Linked DNA regions of Homo sapiens: region 1 is linked to region 2. A link means that fine-mapping ties the variant in region 2 to the expression of a gene that starts in the linked region. Tissue or cell type: whole blood. Region 2 holds a variant in brackets; the other region holds the start of a gene. All regions are shown on one strand. Distances are between the middles of the regions.

Region 1 (6,644 bases), 31 kb before region 2:
ACATATCATAAAACTAAGTTATTCATTTATAGCTTCCTGAAATTTTTCAAATTAAAAGAAATATTGCTACTAATATTAACACTAACAATACATAATTGTTTATTGACATAGCCACATAAAGGTAACATCTTTTCATAAGGAAAGTATCATTTGGAAAATTCATTTGCTAAAAGCTGCACTTGAAAGGTTTTAAGTCTGAATTCAGCCGATGAATGCAGATATGAACTGATGGCTCCAGACTTGTAGGTATACCTAGTTTACCACACTAATCTTCTTAGTATAAAAAAATAAGCGTTACTAAGAAACATCTACTTTCAGCAAATGGACACGACCAGAATGATACATAGAAAGATGTAAGAAATGTCACTCTACCACTCATTTTAATTTTTACAGTAACAGGATGATTGCTATCTCAATCTGTCATTTTACCTTTTTTTTTTTTTTCCGGAAGTTAAAGTGTATCCATACAAGTTCAACTTAACATTGTTAAGTGCAAAGTTAACAGTGTACACTTTGGAGATACGTTTTGAAGTAGAAAATGATTTTTTGTTTTCTAATAAGTTTTCCCAAGTAATATTAAAGAAGGTTAAATATGTCATTTACTTCGAGAAAATAGAAAACCACGAGAAAGTTTGGGAAAATGCTATATTTCAGAGCTTAATATGCTGAAACAGTAAATAAGACAGGAATTGGGTACCTTTTAAAGTAAGTGCATTTACAAAAAATACAAATTGAATAGGAATGCTTTTGGCAAACAAAAATCTGACCTGAAACATTCAATGGCCACAGCATTCAAGAACGCTATATGAGATCCTTTCCCTTTAACCATCCACATACTGATATTTGCAGTCATCCTCAGTAGAATATGTATCTTTTTAGTATATGTTTTAAAATACTTATTGGAAAGATTTAACTAAAACTATTATTATACTTCAACTTCAAATATTTTAGCCACATAAGTTCATTTTACACACAGAAGAAATGATACCTTCATTACTTAATCCACGTATTCTTTCTTTTAGAAAATCGCATTGGCACACGGGAAGAAAAAAAATTTACAAAAAATCCCCCAAAGAACCAAAGCAGGACAAAAGCTTTACTTCTGCAAAGGTTGCTGCCAACACAGGAAGTGTTTAAAAATACTATCCGAATGGACAACAATTGAAAGGCTGCACCAGCCTTTCCAAAGTACTGCTACAGAGAGGGCCTAAACTCCGCATTTAGACACACAGATCATTTTTCACCCATTCAACACATCCTCCTATGCCGAAACTGCTGATCAGTAGGAACATCAATTTTGAGTAGCAAAACAAATGACATTCCACGGCACTAGCCTTAGGATTGGCAGTGTTCAGGGCGCGAGGATCGGGGCAGAGTTGACTCCACTTACCTTCATTTTTGTTGGTGATCTGTGGGGTTCCAGCTCAGCGAGCTATCTTCGCAGTCGCTAGAACTATGGGGAGGGGGAAAGACAGGCACAGACATAATCAGTCAACTGCGGGGAGCGACCAAGGGAAAGAAAGTAAACAAACGCCAGCGGGGAGGGGCAGAATCCTCACCAGCCAAGGGACAAGACCCCTTACGAGGGCAGCCAGGACGCAGGAGCTGAGGGGGCAGCGAGAACCCCACGAGCGCCAAAGGGCAGCCCGTTCCGCCCCGGAGCTCGCCAGCGGCCCACCGCGCCCCCGCCTCGCTGGCCACTTTGACCCGGAATGCTCAACTCGGAGCTCCAGGACAGATAGCTCCGGAAAAGGCCAGAGCTCCCTTCGGGCTTCCCCAGGTCCCCCGCGGAGACGACCGCCGAGCCTCCGCTCCGCGGTCCCCCGGATACCCCGACTTCGGCCCGCGCCCCGCCTCCGCCGCTCGGCCCCCTCGGCCCGCCCCGGGCCCGCGGTGGCGGCAGCGGAGTGTCACGGCGCCATTGCTCTCCTTCCTTCGCTCTGCACCATGTCAGAAAGGAGAAGCGCTCCTTCACCCAAAGGGGCAGGGGCCGCGGCCTTCAGCCGGGAGCCGCCAGAGCCCCGGGGGACCCGCGTGGGGGAGGGGGCGGGGGGCGGAGGGGAGGAGGAGGGGAGGTGGCCCGGACAGGGTGTGGGAGGGGAGGGGAGCCGCACCGCAGCAGCCGCTGCCTCCTCCCAGCGCCCGCCTCAACTTTTTGTACAGCCCAGAGAGGTATCAGCTCGTAGCCCCTCGAGTCCTGCCACGGACTCCGCAGAGGTGGACGCGCCGCGGAGTTGGGGGACGGCTCCCCCAAGCAGCCCGCTCTTCACCGCGCGGAAGCAAACTTAGCGGCGCGGCCAGCCCCACAGCCATTTTCCCGGGAACCCGAGGAAGCGGACGAGGAGGCGGCTGCAACTGCGGCGGCGGTTCCTGCAGTTGCTGCCGCTGGTCAATGGCTGGCCCCTTCCCTTGCGCTCGCCGTGCCACTTGCCTAGCATCCCTCTCCCCACCTCCAAAGCTTCCAACTGCACCGGGACCTCGGGCAGCAGCAGCTGCTGCTACTGCCACTTCGTCCATTCAGTATCCCCGGATTCCCCTCTCCCCACCTACCAACTGCGGGTGAAGTGCGCGCTGTCAGCTCCAGAGTCCTCCTCCCCTCTGACCTCCGTGGGCCCCCGTCCGGGCAGCACCACTCCCAGCCGCGGCTGCAGTTCCTGCGCCGGGTTCCCCACTCGCCCCGATTTACTGCCACAATCCACCAAATAACAAGCTGTTGAGCAGACTCGCTTCTACACGAACTCCTATTGGCTGCTCATGACGCCGAAGAGCTTCGGATAGGACCTCGCTACCTGCCGTCCTCATTGGATGTAGCTGTGAAACTTCATGGATTGGTGAGAAAAACAGCAGGTAGGACATCTTCCACTTATGATTGGCTTTTTCCGAAAACCAACTTTATTGGAGAGTTGGTTATTGAGTAAGCAAGTCCTGAGAAATGATTGGTAGAGACGACTCCGGATGTGCTTGACTGGGCACTGATTGGTGAATTGAGGGGTCAGGAAGAGCAGTTCGACACGAGGATTGGCGGCGGAGTGTCCCATGGAAACGGAACCCAGAATTGCAGCCAGGGGCTTGCACGGGGGCGGGGCAGGGTCTGTCCAAGGCGCTTGCGCTAAACCAGCTTGTCGGCGCCATTTTGTCTCGGCAGCGGTGGCCGTAGCTCCATCGCATTTTATGTTTCTGGCGAGAAGGGAACGGAGTTTTCATCAGGTAGATTGGTTTTTGTGCGGCCGTCCTCCACCGTTTCCTCCAGGACAGCACCTAGTCGTGGCCGGAGGAGTCTCAGAGCTGTCAGAAAGGTCAGTTGGAGGCTATGGTTGTCCGATTGACTGGGGGGATGGCGCAGCCCTAGCGGCACCGGCACCGGAAGTGAAGGGGCCGCAGGCAGCCATGGTAAACTTCTCCCTGCGGCGGGGTGGGGAGAAGGGGCGGGATGAATGGGGGCGAGGCTTCCTCTCCCGCCGAGATAAAGAGGTGGAGGAGAGGCAAACGTCTTTCTTGGAGGTTCTCTTTCGGGTTTTCGAGAATGTGAGAGATTTTCTGGGTTCTGTCCCACTGCAATCTTTCCTGTCTTTGGAAGTGCATTTCGGGGACTTGCCATGTTCTCCACCTGATTGGCACCAGCTGTGGGAGCCTTCTTAGTTAAGACAGGGAAGAAGTGGTTCTTAGAAACATCCTGCATGGGTAGAGGTTTCCGCGTGCTCCTCACGGGATAAAGCTATGAGGAAACTGGAGAAAGCGCTGGCTTTCTGGATGCTGAGGAATTTACTTGCCAGCGCAGACGCTTCTTCTGTGACCTTAGACAAGGGTCTGTCACTCTGCACGAGGCTTATGCTACTTTTTGAAAGCAAACAGTGGTTTTGCAGGGACTGAAAACATCTTAGACAAAAGGACGTCCCCGATAAGATAGACGTTGATCTTTTTCTGTTAACATCTTATATTCTGTTAAACGAAACACACATTTTTAAATAGCGGAATTGGAGTATAAAATTGACTAGTTTTATAGAATGGAGTAATTTTTAAAATGTGACATATCGTCAGTAATCCACGTGGACTAAATTTTCTCAGTAAGAAAACAGCCGAGCAGAATCAGTTTTTTATTCGTAACAGTAATTTTGCTCAAAAGTATTCATAAAAACGTGAAATGCATGTTGGCATTTCTAGTGAGTGACCTAGTCACACTGGATAGATCCTAATAGTTACCCTCAATACCTCTGTTTTAAACCCTACTGCTATATTGGTGGCGCCCATAACTAGAAAATGATTGTGTGACTTAACAATTACTGGGTTTTTTGGCAGTTGTGCTGAAGAAAACAGAACATCTCAGTGATTACTGAGGTGAGTCATAAAGTCTAAAAATCCTTAGAATTGCGGGGGACTACCTGGAAAAACTTTCTATGGATTAGTAAAGAAATACCAGAATGGGAGGAAGGGTAGTTAAAAGATGTTTTGTTTGGTCAGATTCAAATGAGTCTGTATAATTAGCTTTCTAGTGTAATATTTTAGAATGAAATCCCAAAATTAGGACATCCTTATGGACTTGTTTACCCATTTACGTGGTTCTCATTTCTGGACTTTGATATACCTCATGTTTTTGTTATAAAACATTATGCGTATTTTTGTGATTTCCTCCCCCCCACCCGCCTATTTAAAAAGTTCTTATATAGAAAAGATCTTGTAAATGGGAGTGTTTAGGAGTGAGGCTTTTTTTTTTTTTTTTTTTTTTTTTTTGGAGACAGAGTCTCTCTCTGTCATCGAGGCTGGAGTGCAGTGGCGCAATCTCGTAGGAGTGAAGCAGTTTTTTAAAAGACCTTATAAAACAATATATTACTGAATTTTCTAGGGGGTAAGCATCCATAATTCTACGATCAAAGTTTAAACTGTTATTATTGAATCCAAATAATGCATGGACATTTGGAAATTATTAAAAAGCCCAAAGAAGAATACAAAAATGTCTTCCCTCCTCCAAAAGGTAGTTACGGTTTACACTATAGTTATATATTATACAAAAGGCTTTGTCTTTTTTGTTGGTTTTGTTTTACCAAATATTCTAGTGTTGTTCATTACCGTCTATTCTTTATAGAAAACATTGGGAATATTGGAAATATCTTATCGTAAAGCATCTTTTATGTCTTCATAGTGTTTTGTGGGATAAATATATCATAATTTATGTAACGTGTTTATTTTTCTATAATGGCAGTAATATGTCAGTGAATATCCTTGTACATGTTTTGCAAAATATTGTGTCTAAGAAGGTCGTTGCAAAAGTAATCGTGGTTTTTGCATTATTGGAATTTGCCATTTGATGTTGGACTACGTTGTTAAATAAATGTGGTTATGTTATACATCATTTTAATGGGCATTTCTCGCTTTGTTCTTTTGGTAATGACTTATTACTCTCTGTTTATTTCATGTTTATTTTATTTTATTTTTGAGACAGAGTCACGCTCTGTCGCCAGGCTGAAGTCAGTGGCACCATCTCGGCTCACTACAACCTCTGCCTCCCAGGTTCAAGCAATTCTTCTGCCTCAGCCTCCCGAGTAGCTGGGACTACAGGCGCGTGCCACCACACCAGCTAATTTTTTGTATTTTTAATAGAGCCAAGGGGCTTCACCATGTTAGCCATGGTGGTCTCGATCTCCTGACCTCATGATCTGCCTGCCTCGGCCTCGTAAAGTGGTGGGATTACGGGCATGAGCCACGTGCCCAGCCTTCATGTGTATTTTAGACAATGAAAATGATGTTAGACAAAAAAGCAAATTCGAGCAGTTTTCGTTTTTGAGTTAAAAATGGGTTGTAAAACAACAGAGACACCATATCAGCAATGCATATGGTTCAGGAACTGTTAACTTACAGTGCAGTGGTGATTCAAGAAGTTTTTTTGTTGTTGTTGTTTGAGATGGAATCTTGCTCTTTCAGGCTAGAGTGCAGTGGCATGATCTTGGCTCACTGCAACCTCTGCCTCCTGGGTTCAAGCCATTCTGCCTCAGCCTCCCCAGTAGCTGGGATTACAGGCACGCACCACCATGCTCAGCTAATTTTTGTATTTTTAGTAGAGATGGAGTTTCACCATCTTGGCCCAGGCTGGTCTCGAACTCCTGACCTCGTGATCCGCCCGCCTTGGCCTCCCAAAGTGCTGGGATTACAGGCTTGAGCCGCTGTGCCTGGCAGTTTCAAGAAATTTTGCAAAGGGAAGGAAAGTCTTGAAAATCAGGAGCGTAGTGGCTGGTCGCCAGAAGTTGATAACTACCGGTTAAGAGCAATCAGCAAAGCTGATCCTCTTAAGGCTACTTGAGATGTTGCCGAAGAACTCAATGTGGACCATTCTACAGTCCTTCAGCATTTGAAGCAAATTAAAAAGTGAAAAAGCTCGATAAGTGGGTGCCTCATGAACTGACCGAAAAAAAAAGTCATTGTTTTGAAGTGTCCTTATCCCTTATTTTTTGCAACAACAAACCATTTCTTGGTCAGATTGTGATGTGCGAGAAAAAGTGGATTTTATACAACAACTGGTGATGGCCAGCTCAGTAGATGGACTGAGAAGATTCTCCAAAGCACTTACCAAAGCCAAACTTGCACCAAAAAAAGGTCATGGTCACTGTTTTGTGGTCTGCTGCTGGTCTGATCCACTATAGCATTCTGAATCC
Region 2 (6,644 bases):
AAACATCTACTCTCCCGACAAATGTTGAATATACCTAATCAACCCAAGTTCAGTTTATTTTTGCACATTGCTTTAGAGATATAACTTGGCTGGGCACAGTGGCTCACACCTGTAATCCCAACACTTTGGGAGACCAAGGCGGATGGATCACTTGAGGTCAGTTCGAGACTAGCCTGGCCAACATGGTGAAACCCTGTCTCTACTAAGAAACAAAAATCAGCCAGGTGTGGTGGTGGGCGCCTGTAATCTCAGCTACTCAGGAGGCTAAGGCAGGAGAATTCCTTGAACCCGGGAGGCAGGGGTTGCAGTGAGCCAAGATCACACTACTGCACTCCATCCTGGGCTACAGTAGAGCGAGACTCCATCTCAGAAAAAAAAAAAGATACAACTATAAAAGATACCTCATAAAGAACACGGATTCACTAGGAAGAGGCGTCATTAACTGTGCCCTTTTAGAATATTTTGTCCATTAACTTAAATATATTTAAAACCAACTAATTGGCTGGACATGGTGGCTCGTGCCTGTAATCCTAGCACTTTGGGGAGGCAGAGGCGGGTGGATCATGAGGTCAGGAGTTCGAGACCATCCTGGCCAACATGGTGAACCCACGTCTCTACTAAAAATACAAAAATTAGCCAGGTGAGGTGGCCATAGGCCTGTAGTCCCAACTACTCGGGAAACTGAGGCAGGAGACTTGCTTGAACCCAGGAGGTAGGGGCTGCAGTGAGCTGAGATCACGACACTGCACTCCAGCCTGGGCAACAGAGTGAGACTCTGTTTCAAAAAAATAAAAAAAAAAAAACTAATTTATGTGCTTGCAATTATTAGTGGTCTCTTCAACCTATAGCTTCTTGGCAGTAGTCTTTTTAAGCTCCTTGTCCATTTTATAATGGCATATATGCCACATAACCTGGCCTTCACATTGTAGTACCTTACAAATTACAGCAAAGAAGGAGGCACTGTCATGCAACATATTAAAGTAACATAAAAAGTATCAAGAGGCCAGGTGCGGTGGTTCACATCTGTAATCCCAGCACTTTGGGAGGCCAAGGTGGGTGGATCACAAGGTCAGGAGTTCAAGACCAGCCTGGCCAAGATGGTAAAGCCTGTCTCTACTAAAAATACAAAAATTAGCCAGGTGTGGTGGTGGGCGCCTGTAATCCCAGCTACTTGAGAGGCTGATGCAGGAGAATTGCTTGAACACGGGAGGCGGAGGTTGCAGTGAGCCAAGATCGTGCCACTGCCCTCCAGTCTGGACGACAGAGTGAGACTCCATCTCAAAAAAAAAAAAGTATCAAATTAAGTACAGTAGCAGAGTATAGCTTTATCTAATACTATGCACTGAGTTACATACCTTACTTTTTGGAGGGTCTTCTAAAACCTTGCTATAATATGAGAGGATCTTGATTTTCTACAACTAAGTAAAAGATAACATGCTGCTCCATTTTCTTAAATGATGAAGGGATGGCTTTCCTAACATGGAACACTTAACAGATGACTACCATTATACCTAAATATAAAAGATGGTAAGAACTGATTTCCAGAAGGACTTCAAAGGATTGGTTCGGTGAAGGAAACAGAGTATATCATGATAACATACTATACAATTCAAGGAAGATATCTGACTTCCTTTCTTAGCAGCTCTGCTGCATGTTGGTTCCTAGTGTTGCCATTATTAACTGACAATCATAGAATGGCTTCTGCTTGCTTCACAACTGAAACTAGGAGGGCGGAGGGGAGGAGGTGGCAAGAGGGGTAAAGGCAGTAGCAGTAATGATGGACCGGTTAATAAGAGACTCTGAGTGTGATGTAAATAGTATGTTTATTAAACAATAGAGCCCATTGGAATTTTTTTCTTCCACGTATTGTTAGATGTAAAACCTGATACACTACCATACAGACAGGTGATTGACTAGACCTTGTTTATGTAGTTCTAATGTGGAATACTTAGAGTTGTTATGAATTACGATTATCCATAACTTTTGAATCTAAAAAGCTGGCTACACAACGTATTTTGTTGGAATCTTTTTGTAATACCAAATGTCTACACTCTTTGATCTAGAGAATCACAAAATTTTAGAAACATCACTACCCAGGTTAATTGACTTTTTTATTGTTTACTGTCCAAATACCTGTTACATATTAATAGTATTCTACTTTATATACCTGTAATAAACTATTCAGGGTTTCTTAAGCTGGTTGTTGAAATGTTTTGTAATACTGCTCTTCTTACCTTGTTATAGGAACTTTTATAATAAACCTGAAAAAGTGAAACATATCTTTCCCAAATAAATAGCAGATTATATAAATGAGCCAGCTTCATGGATCATGTATTGAAATAATTAGTTGTAACCTATAAAGTTTGTAAGCATTCTTACAATAGAGGCAATCTTAAGATTACTATTATTAGGACTTAAGAGATTTGAGAAGTTGGGAGCTAACAAATTAAGACCCTAATGGTATATGTCCTTAACCTGTAACAGGAGTTTATTTTGTCAAGCTATTTTTCCCATCCTATTCATTACTACTAAAAAATATTGCTTAAAAACATTTTCTTCCTTCGTGAGGCTTCTTAGAATGTTAAATTTACCTTCTAAAAATTATACACTAAGTTATTTTACAGGAAAACAGCTTCTTAGGATTAATGTAATATATATATGCAAAGGTCAAATGAAATATTTTTGTGGATGGTAAGAAAAATTTCAACTTACATTTTTGCAACTTCTTTAACGATATCACGGCAGGTCATTTCTTTCATCTATAGAAAATAAAATGTATACTGTTCATCAGAAGAACATTTTCCACTTGTGTAATAACTATTTTCACTTTTATACTCAGATATAAAACCAAGGAAAATAACCTAAAGTCTGAAAAAGACCAGAATCGAAGTTTCCTGATTCATATTTTAATGTTTTGAAATTTATACTCCAGGCTGGGTGCAGTGGCTTGTGCCTGTAATCCCAGCACTTTGGGAGGCCGAGGCGGCCGGATTGCCTGAAGTCAGAAGTTCGAGACCAGCCTGACCAACATGGTGAAACCCTGTCTCTACTTAAAAATACAAAAGAGCTGGGCATGGAGGTGGTGCGCGCCTGTAACCCTAGCTACTCGGGAGGCTGAGGCCTAAGAATCTCTTGAACCCAGGAGGCAGAGGTTGTAGTGAGCCGGGATCACGCCACTGCACTCTAGCCTGGGCGACAGAGAGAGAGACTGTCTAAAAAAGGAAAAGAAAAAAATTTATACGCCAAAAAAGATATTCTGAGATAACCTGTAGTTACCACTAACTTTGTGACAAAATTATAAAAATCCACAGCCATCTATGAATCTGTAGGCAGACCTGAAGTTTGAACGACTGGTGAAGACATCTGATTTTCTTTATAGCCAAGTTAGGATAACAAAATGCAAACAAGTCATTAATATTTACTATATGCAAGATACAGAAAGATGAAGGAAGGAGTAAGAAGTTATCCTTCGTGGAACTATTCAAAGCAAAAATGCAAAATACCAGGGAAAGCTTTGAAGAACCAAGATTTGAGCAGGTTCTTAGAATA[T/C]AGATTGGATTGGATTTGATTTCAAGAAAGATGAACGTGTAAAGCAGAAGTGGGAAGCCAAAAACTTTTTTCCAAATTAGAATTAAGCATTCTTTCAATGAACATTTGGAAATCAAGGTAGAAAAATATCCCTAGGGCCTAGCTGAGGAGTCTGTATGTTGTTGGGTTTTGATAGTAACCAGTCCAAGATTTTGTTATTAGACGTGGGTTTCTGAATAGACAGGCATTTCTGAACAGACATGACAGGATCAAAACAATGTTTGAGCAAACTGCCCTTCATCTACTGTGGATATGTTGGGGGATGATGGAATATAGTGAAAGATAATGGGTGCTCATACAGCAGTCTAGACTTAAGGTGATTCAACTACTATATATTAAACTAGATTATCTTTTATTTTTTAATTTTGAAATCTGGATGCTCAAGCTCTGCCTGCACAACCACATGAGGAAGAAGGAACAATGACAACAAAAATAACACTAAATTTAAATTTAAGAGTACTACTTTTAGGAAATAGACAAACCATTATTTGGGTACAACTAAAGGCAACTGGCATGGACTCAAATATTTTGGGGAAGAAAAAGACTAAAAGTTCTAAGGAAGAAAATGCGAACCTTGATAGTTTGAAATAGTTAAAAAGACAGTGTAGAAACTGCTTAGGCAGTTTGATTATGGACTATTAGATGATACTTGGGTCTGATAATGGTATAAGGAGAATAAAGTATTTAGGGATCCAATATTACGCCTGCAGCTTTTTCCAAATAGTTCATGGGGGAGGGGGATGTGTAAGTGGTTAACTGAAGTCTAACTAGATAGGTTTGTTGTAAGCTTAGGATGTTTACAGTTCTTCATGTTAAGTTGAGCGTGATGGGAAGGGAAAGAATGCTGATCTTTAAATTTTTGTCCTTAGTTAAGTTCTGTATTTAGTGAATTAATTGCATCCTAAAAAGTCAAACTTGAAAAGCACATTTTAAATGGCAAATCTATTTTTTACATGTTTGTGAAGTTTTTATTTTTTAGTAAACAGACCATCAGAAGAGAACAATGGTACAGAGCAGGGGTCAGCAGATGGATTTTGTAAAGCATCAACTTGTAAATATTTTCAAGTTTATTAGCTGTATGGCTCTGGTTTCTGTTCCCTGTTCCAAATGTTAAAGTCTACTGTTGTATTCTAAAAGCAGCCATGGACTGAATGTAGCTGTGTTCCAATAAAACTTACACAAAAGCAGGCAGTGGGCCATAATTTGCAACACCTGATTCACAGCATAATTTTGTCACAAACTGAAAGTGTTCCTCAATTAAAGTGATTTTTTTTTCTTGATTTTTCTCTGGGATTTATTGTTTTTCCCATTCCTTGCTAGGATTTAACTACAGAAAGACAGATAGTAACTGCTCTAAATATTCTAATTTCCTTTATTTTTTTGAGATAAGGTGTCGCTCTGTTGCCCTGGCTGGAGTGCAGTGGCGTGATCATAGCTCACTGTAGCCCCCAACTCCTGGCTGGGGCTCAAACAGTCCTCCTGCCTCAGCCTCCCAAGTAGCTGGGACTACAGGCACGCACCACCTCACCTCGCTAACATTTTGTTTTGGGAGATAGGGTCTTACTCTTTTGCCCAGCCTGGTCTTGGAACTACTGGGCTCAAGCAGTCCTCCCAACTTGGCCTACCAAACTGGTAGGATTACAGGGGTAATCCCCCTCAACTGACATAAATATTCTAATTTTCAAATTTCCATATAATAGTATGGAGAGATGAAAACAAAAGGAAAAGAGTAGAAGATAGGAACCTAGCATCATACTAGTAAGTGTGCAATGGAAAAGAACATAGGTCTAAGACTCATAAGGTCTGGATACTGTTCAGAACCAGCTGATTCTGTGGTCCTATGCAGTGTGTTTAATCTGCAGTTGAGCTTGGGCTAAATGACCTCTAAGATCCTTTTGTCAGCTTTACTAAAATACGAAACAAATTAGGTTTTATAGGGGGTTCTAGAACTTAGCATTGTATAAATGCCAAGCACTAATAAGTATTTTCTAGAAGCTGGTCTTAAATAAGTTGAATGAGTAATTAGTTGAGCAGGGTTCTAGTACAGCATTAACATTAAATGTATGTGAAATTGTATCTCACTTCAGTTTACCAAAACACTGATAAATGGTATGCCTGCTTTTTAGGCAAGTTTCTGACAGGTAATCAATAATATTGAAACAGTATCCATGAAGTCTTTAAGTTGATCAACGCATGGCTAAAAGGAAAACCAAGTTTTTAAGAAAACTTTTTCACACTAATAGCTGAATTTTGTGAAAGAAAAAGTGGGTAGTCGTAAGAGTGTAGGCTTTATGCCTTACCTGGCTAGGAGCAAAGCTAAGAGAACCGGTGGAGCACAGCCAGACATAAAAGCTGTGTTCCAAAGAAAGAATATAGGAAAAATATAACTTTTTATTAACTCAAAATTTTAAACAAAATTTTCAAACTAGAGCTCACAGAGATTCATAAATAGGTTTCAAGGATTTTGTGAAATCATATCAAAAGTTGTGTTTTTCTAGATTGAGGCTTTATAGCAGTTATTCAGAATCTATAAAGGGATGTATAACACAACTCTACAGATAATATGTTACCAGCTTTCCCATTCAGTGACTTAGCAGCTTCATAAACTCTCAACATCAAACCACACTATATCCTTACACCGAGCTTCCCCAGCCACAGGCCACATGGGGCCAAACACAAATTCGTAAACTTTCTTAACACATGATGAGATTTTTTTTTAAGCTCATCAGCTATCATTAGTGTTGGTGTATTTTATGTGTGGCCCAGGGAAGCCAAATGATTGGACATCCCTGCCTTAGACTGAAATGTCTGTGGTGATAAAATTTCACTGCATTAGGATGACGACATAGTAAAAATTCAAGCATTAATTATTACCTGAAGCTTCTCTATTTCCGTCTTTGCAGCTTGCCTGGCTTTGCCGATGGCACAGCCCCAATAACCCTATTTAGAAAAAAATATATATAATCACTGAATTAGTACACTATCATATGTAATTAATGACTACTAATGTTTCTATAACCTAGTGAAAGGATGCTAAATGACTTTTAAAAGCAAGT

What was found. PIP is the estimated chance that this variant, and not a neighbour inherited with it, causes the effect.
Region 1: PSMA3-AS1 starts here. The variant in region 2 is fine-mapped to the expression of PSMA3-AS1 in whole blood (INTERVAL, PIP 0.98).

The regions. Positions count from the first base shown.
Region 1 is chr14:58,294,607-58,301,250 of GRCh38, reverse strand. PSMA3-AS1 (PSMA3 antisense RNA 1) reads left to right here and starts at 3,114. Exons shown (of 4, transcript NR_029435.1): 1 at 3,114-3,296. ARID4A (AT-rich interaction domain 4A) reads right to left here and starts at 2,696. Exons shown (of 24, transcript NM_002892.4): 1 at 2,551-2,696; 2 at 1,391-1,453. The coding sequence starts at 1,396. RefSeq lists a silencer at 1,607-2,126 and enhancers at 2,757-2,846, 2,957-3,006, 3,027-3,446, 2,743-3,466.
Region 2 is chr14:58,263,589-58,270,232 of GRCh38, reverse strand. PSMA3 (proteasome 20S subunit alpha 3) reads right to left here. Exons shown (of 11, transcript NM_002788.4): 7 at 6,463-6,528; 8 at 2,713-2,759. It overlaps PSMA3-AS1 (PSMA3 antisense RNA 1), which reads left to right. Exons shown (of 4, transcript NR_029435.1): 4 at 2,840-4,868. Among named protein-coding and RNA genes, the nearest start is that of LINC00216, 21 kb to the left of the region's middle. The variant T/C (reference allele first, on the strand shown) is at 3,550.